Homo sapiens: one gene and its partner. The protein of the gene in region 2 purifies or fractionates together with the protein of the main gene of each other region. This does not show direct contact. Each region holds a gene or a part of one and is shown on either strand. Other genes may lie near its edges.

Region 1 (3,655 bases), on a different chromosome or scaffold from region 2:
TTATTTTAACTTTTTTTTTTTTTTGACCTCAAACCATCAATTTTATTGAATTGTAGATTATTAATAGTCATATGTCACATATCACTGAAGAGGTATAAATAGTAGTTATAAACAAACCTCTTACTCCACCCCTTTTAATGACTTAAAAATTATTTATATTTCTCTTATTTTGGCCTGATATGTTCTTCCACAAAACTAATAAATAGGTTTTGGAGAATGTGCACAAAAGATCCTTTTGAGAAGAAAGTGTCTTTGGAAGAGGTGTTCACTTTAATGTCTGTGTTCCTCAGGTTATCGGCATTGGAGCAGGACAGCAGTCTCGTATACACTGCACTCGCCTTGCAGGAGATAAGGCAAACTATTGGTGGCTTAGACACCATCCACAAGTGCTTTCGATGAAGTTTAAAACAGGAGTGAAGAGAGCAGAAATCTCCAATGCCATCGATCAATATGTGACTGGAACCATTGGCGAGGTGAAAGACTTGGCATTGGGTTCTCGGCTGTGTTAATATTCAGTTCAACCCTTTATGTGTAACAGATTTTAACTTCATCACCACACAGAGAAAAAGATACTTTCATTGAAATTCTATGTTGTCTAAAATTGATCATTGAAACTTCTTACACATTTCTCATGTTCTTCTGTCTCATGTAACTTTCTTCATTGTTTTTGACCCCTTTCTGAAACCACAGTCCTCTGTCTTTTTAAATTGCAGCCTTGGTGTAGGTTTGTATATTTGTACTTCCCCTGTTGATTATAAGCTTTTGATGACAAGGACTGCTTTTCACCTACGTCGAGGTGCCTGCCACCACGTCATGCATGGTGCTTGCTGTCCGATGGGTCTGTATTCAACATTAAATACAAATTGCCTGACGGCAGGTAACCCTGGGGTCTTCTCCCACCACATTTTCTACATGTGCCATTAATAACTTGATACATTTTGTTACATTTCATGTTCTTCTGTTTGAAGAAGGTATGTGGGAACATTACAATCGCAAACGTTAGGTAGGTAGCCCGCCAGAAGAAAAGATCTAGCCCAGTTTCTGGACATATTGCGTGCCTAACAAAATGCTGGATGGAAAACAGAAGGCTGCTAATCAAATACTAGATGGTCTTCTGAAGAGCCAATTGACTACCCTCAGTTTTTTATTCAGGAGCAGGAATCAACATAAGTGTCATTGAAGAGTGAGGCTGCAGAATGTAACTGAAGTCCTTAAGATATCTTTTTTTTTTCAACTTTGATACTTGGATTTTTCTGTTTGATATTACCAGTCAACCCCTGCTACTAGTCCTGAAAGAGTCCTGGAAGTGAACAAGAATAAAAGTATGTCAAAGCTAAAACATGACCCAAGATAGAAGCACCTTGTAAAATATGATTAACTGTCTGTGCCACTATGACACAATACTGCAGGCTGGGTAACTTATAAACCATAGACATTTATTTTTCATAGTTCTGGAGGCTGTGAAGTCCCAGATCAAGGTACTGGTGGGCTGAGAGTCTGGGGAGGCCTACCCTCTGCTTCCCAGATGGCACAGCCCTCTCTGGAAAGGACAAACACTGTGTCCTTACTTCACAGAAGGGGCATACTTCCCCTGAAGCCCTTTTATAAGTCTGTAATCCATTCATGAGGGCCCCACCCTCATTGCCCAATAACTTTCTAAAGGCCTTATACTTCTTAATACTGTTGCATTGGGGATTAAGTTTCAACATGAATTTTGGAGTGGATACACACACTCAAACCATAGCAAATATTATGAATTGTGTTTTGTCTACAACTGCCTTTACATTTAGAATAATTTTTGTATAAATGTAGTTAAAGAACTACTCATCTCTTTCCTAGATTGGATATAGAGGGTTTTTTTGAAAACCCTTGGAACACAATTTTTATTTGCTTTCTTTGCTACAGTAGTACCAAAGCAGTAGATTTAAATTAGACGGTAGTCTAATAGACATAAAGTAGTAGATACGAAGTAGATTTAAATTAGAGATTTTAAAACAGTGTATTTTTATGTAAGTAGCTTAGCCAAAAATAAAAAAAATTACATATGTACTTGGAATAAACTGATTTGGAAAGTAAAATGGTATTATCTTTATTTGGTAAACTTAGAATCACTTTTTTTCCTTAATGAAAATATTTCTAAAAGCATCAAAGAGATTCTAGATATGTGAACTTCCATGTAAATAATGGTCATTATTTACAATTAAGAAATCCTGGCCGGGCGCGGTGGCTCATGCCTATAATCCCAGCACTTTGGGAGGCCGAGGTGAGTGGATCATGAGGTCAAGAGATTGAGACCCTCCTGGCCAACATGGTGAAACTCTGTCTCCAAAAATACAAAAATTAGCTGGGTGTGGTGGTGTGCACTTGTGGTCCCAGGTACTTGGGAGGCTGAGGCAGGAGAATTGCTTGAACCTGGGAGGTGGAGGTTGCGGTGAGCCGAGATCGCACCACTGCACTCCAGCCTGGTGATAGTGCAAAACTCCGTCTAAAAAAAAAAAAATAATAATAATAATAAAAACAAGTCCTAAGAAAAATGCCCAGGTGCTTTCTGGCATGGTGATTTGCACCACATAGAACTAAAGACGATGTCAGACCAAGCTTCTTCCTTTCTCTCTCCCCGCATAGGATGAAGATTTGATAAAGTGGAAGGCACTGTTTGAGGAAGTCCCTGAGTTACTCACTGAGGCAGAGAAGAAGGAATGGGTTGAGAAACTGACTGAAGTTTCTATCAGCTCTGATGCCTTCTTCCCTTTCCGAGATAACGTAGACAGAGCTAAAAGGGTAAGTATGGAATTGGGTGCATTTGCTTAGAGTTGAGCATTATGTAGAAACTGTTTCAGAAATCCTGCTTTTGATTTTTAAAAGGTGTGGCAAAGTGATACAGATCAGTAATATTCAGAGAACCATTTGACTTCTCCATTGGGTGGATGGAGAACCCAAATCCTGTTGTTATTTTGCCTTTTTGACTGAGTGTATCTTTGTTAGCATATGCTTTTTAGAGGGGGATTTTGAGTTTTGCAGGTTTTTACATAAAATCGCGTTTTGAAAATCAATATACTTCCCCCAGAGTGGTGTGGCGTACATTGCGGCTCCCTCCGGTTCTGCTGCTGACAAAGTTGTGATTGAGGCCTGCGACGAACTGGGAATCATCCTCGCTCATACGAACCTTCGGCTCTTCCACCACTGATTTTACCACACACTGTTTTTTGGCTTGCTTATGTGTAGGTGAACAGTCACGCCTGAAACTTTGAGGATAACTTTTTAAAAAAATAAAACAGTATCTCTTAATCACTGGATCCATAGTTTTTGGTAGTTGTGTTTTATGTTAAAGATGCAGGCTCTTTGAACTGACACATGACACATAACACATAAATGAGGAATTCCAGAGCACCCCTGCCTACCGGAGCTCAGCCCATCCCACAGCACTGCCCGTGTGAAACATAAACATTAGCAGGAACCAAACGAGCTGAGCAGCCAGAGGACATGGCACAAGTCACTGTGTACAGGCCACACTTAAGGACTGGGAGTTATACCCATCTTAAAGGTGGAGTATTGATGTAAATTACCTAGAATTCTTCTGCATGGGAGTTGTATATTAAAGGTCCATGTTGCCTCCTAGGGGAGTCTTCTCATGCCGTTTTTGTTTGTTTGTTTT
Region 2 (3,655 bases):
TTCAAAGTAGTAGAAAACTGTAGAAGAATAACTTCAGGGATAGGAAGACTTTTCACAACAGGGCACAAAATGTAATCATGACAGGGCACAAAATGTAAAGTCACAAGCAAAAGACAGACACATTTGACTACATCAAAATAAAAGCTTCTGTATACTCAAAGCAAAACTAAACAAAGCAAACAACAGCAAAAACAACAAAGGGACAAGGCACTCCAAAAACAAAGTTTAAAGATAAATGACAAACTAGGAAAAAAATTATTAATATCCTCATATGGAAAGAGCTCCTATAAAACAATAAGACAAAGCAAACTACTCCCAAAAAACACAAATAAATGACATAAACAGACAATTCAGACATAAGGAAATACAAATTAAAATATAGAAAAGAAAGTTCACCCTCACTAATAATCATGAAAATGCAAATTAAGACTGGATACCATTTTTTTCTCATGAGTGCTTGGCAGAAATGGAAGTCTACTGGCATGGGTGTGGGGAAGCAGGTGTTCATGCTTTAATAGTAATGTAGCCAGCACAGTGATAAAGGATACTCACTGTAGCAAATAACTGGAAAAAACCTTAACGTCCACCAATAGGGAAATGGTATAATAGAAAACTATGAAGCTGTTAAAACAGTGGGATAGATCTATATGCATGATATGGAAATAACTCGAAGAAACAGTGATACATTTTAAAAAGCAAACTGCCAAACAATATGCCTAGTATAATCTCGCATTTAAAAAACAGAAAAAAGGCTGGGTACAGTGGCTCATGCCTATAATCCCAGCACTTCAGAAGGCCGAGGCAGAAGGATTGCTTGAGCCCAGGAGTTGCAGGCCAGCCTGGGCAACAAAGTAAGACCTTGTCTCTACAAAAAATAAAAAAATTTGCCTGGCAGGGTCACATACACCTGTAGTTCCAGCTACATGGAAGGCTGAGGCAGGAGGATTGCTTGAGCCCAGGAGGTCAAGGCTGCACCGAGCCATGTTCATGCCATTGCACTACAGCCTGGGTGACAGAGCAAGACTTTGTCTCAAAAAAGAAAAAAAGAAAAAACAGAAAAAAATCCAAAACGCTGTTTATGTGTATATTTATGTACCTCAATAGATATGATAATAGTTATACCAAATTTTTTTAACAGTGGCTACATCTAGGAAGCGAACTGCGATGGTGTAGGTGATCACAAGAGACTATAGAATGACTTATACCATTAAATTTTTTTTTCTGTTTGATTATTTTACCAATTTTTTTCTGTTTGATTATTTTACTAAAAGACACATTTGCATCACTTGTTTAATAAAAAATAACGATGCAGCACTTAAGATAGTATCTAGCATATAGCAGTTGCTCAAAAATGCTAATTTCAACTTAAAAATAAATTAAGAAAATATTTTCAAAGAGTTAAAAAAATAAAGGATGATGTAGCCATAATGGTTCTATGGCCAAGGTTCTAAATGCTACATTATATAAGTGATAGAATTCTTCCCCAGGGAACAGAAAAAAGGGGCACGTTTAGGGGAAAAGGGAATTTACCAAACAACCAAAGAAAGATATCCAGGGTCTGTGTGTATTCACTGACCCAGAAACAAGCAGTAAATAAGTGTTTCTAGAAGTGCTTTACTAAAGGCACACTTAGCATATTAGAATGGTCAACTTACCTGTCGTCTTCACTACAGAGGTGGTGGAAACTCCATTGAGCTCACTAGAACTCCTTTTCACAGGCCTTGGCTTGTATTCTCGTCTGGGGACACTGGATGCAGCTGATATTCTGTAACACACATCGTAAGATGAGCCAGACATCTGATGTTGAAAGCTTTCCAAACACACATCCTCTCTGCCTTGTTGAGCACAGGAACTTAGGTTACAGCCAGTGGTCATGAAAGGGACGATTTTTACACACTGACTCTTGAGTAGCCCGAAGTGATGGAGGTGATATCACAAATGCAGTTTTTCAACTCCCTATTTGAGCTTGTGAGTGAAATTCATCTTGAAGAAGACTAATTGGGCCAGCCATGGTGGCTCATGCCTGTAATCCCAGCACTTTGGGAGGCCAAGGTGCTCACCTGAGGTCAGGAGTTCGAGATCAGCCTGGCCAACATGGTGAAACCCCATCTCTACGAAAAATACAAAAATTAGCCAGGCATGGTGGTGGGCGCCTGTAATCCCAGCTACTCGGGAGGCTTAGGCAGGAGAATCTCTTGAAACTGGAAGGTGGAGGCTGCAGTGAGCAGAGGTTACGGTGAGCCAAGATGGCGCCACTGCACTCCAGCCTGGGCAACAGAGCACGACTCCATCTCAAAACAAAACAAAACAAAACAAAAGACTAATTTTCTTCATCAAGTCTCTGAGGCATCCAGCAAGTGCCTGGGACGCGGTCGGCACCCAGTGATGGGAGCTGCCTTCTCCCTCACTCTACTCTTATAGATTATGATAGAATTATGAAAATACACTCCTGTCAGTAACAGGTAAACTATCTGCCTGCAGAAGTGGATGCTTCAGGGACTGAACACATCTTTGTCTTCCCTAGGTAACTACGTCATTGATTTAAGTAAAAATCCCTCCAAATTTATGCATTACCATAATCCTGTGTAAAACAATTTTCTGTTATCAAACCTAATTTAAAATATTTTAATAAACAGGGTTGCCATGCAGACTATATATAATATTACTAATTTTCAGAAAAGTATAGACTACATCTATGATTAAATTCACAAGGAATGCAGAAACCTTTCTTTGATTGTTCAGAAGATATTTTTGACTCTTTCAATACCTGTCAATATTATGAACACAGCCTGAAATTTGTCAATATTTTGACTCTTTCAATACTAGTCAATATTATGAACATATCCTGAAATTCGTACTGGTGAAGTGAAGGCACTACCTTTTTTTTTTTTTTTTTTTTTTACAGATATTTACATATTTTCCATACAGCATCTCACTTTTTTCCATAGCTCTGGATGTTTTCCATCCCTTTGTGAATGGGGAGTTAAACTCTCATCAAATCAGCAATGAAGCCAGGGTAGTTCTGTAGGGGTTGATGTCCCAGGTGGGAGAGCAACTTGGTTAGTTGCCCTAAACACGGGTCACAAAAAAAAGGGATTTAATGAAAAGAAAAAGGAGAAAAGCTGCCAGGTCCCTTTTCCCAGTTCTATCCTACTGGCCAAAGCCAGTACTTATTATCTCAGTCCCATCCCACATCCAACCATGAAAGCCAGTGAAAGAAAATTCAAAACAGAATGAGGCAGGGGAAGGGGGAGATGGAGAGATGGAGAGACAGACAGATGGATTTCAATAGATGTTACCTCCGCAGCCCTTGGCTTGTAAGAAACGTGGAGGTGCTTACCGCATCTGTAGCTTGCTCTGCAGCTCCTGCAGAATCTCTGTGGACTGTCTGTGATAGTCTAATGCTGCCTCTATGAACACAGCCAACTGGCTGACTTGTTCTACCTGCAGCAGAAGTGCAAAATTATTCCATGGAGGCCCGAGCCTGTGTAATGTCCAGAGAGAGAGGAGACCAGCAGCAAAGACCTAGCTTTGCAGGGAAGACCAGTGTCTGCCTTGGTCCATTTCATTTAATTTCATGTAGGAGCTCTGTATAATAATCATACAGGTCATGGTATGGAGCTATAAATGCTGGAAAAACATGTTCAAATTTATT

The links. Proteins that work in one complex are often made in the same cells at the same time.
Region 1: the proteins of SH3GL3 (region 2) and ATIC purify together in Homo sapiens (affinity purification with mass spectrometry; one large-scale study listed by BioGRID and IntAct). This does not show direct contact.

Annotation. Positions count from the first base shown.
Region 1 is NC_000002.12:215,346,469-215,350,123, forward strand, and holds the end of ATIC (bifunctional purine biosynthesis protein ATIC), read left to right. Parts: intron 1-290; coding exon 291-473; intron 474-2,625; coding exon 2,626-2,781; intron 2,782-3,067; coding exon 3,068-3,187; 3' UTR 3,188-3,296; downstream 3,297-3,655. UniProt on the Homo sapiens protein: Bifunctional enzyme that catalyzes the last two steps of purine biosynthesis.
Region 2 is NC_000015.10:83,586,772-83,590,426, reverse strand, and holds part of SH3GL3 (endophilin-A3), read right to left. Parts: exon of another isoform or gene 3,452-3,655; intron 3,445-3,451; coding exon 3,341-3,444; intron 3,070-3,340; exon of another isoform or gene 2,914-3,069; intron 1,766-2,913; coding exon 1,656-1,765; intron 1-1,655. UniProt on the Homo sapiens protein: Implicated in endocytosis. May recruit other proteins to membranes with high curvature.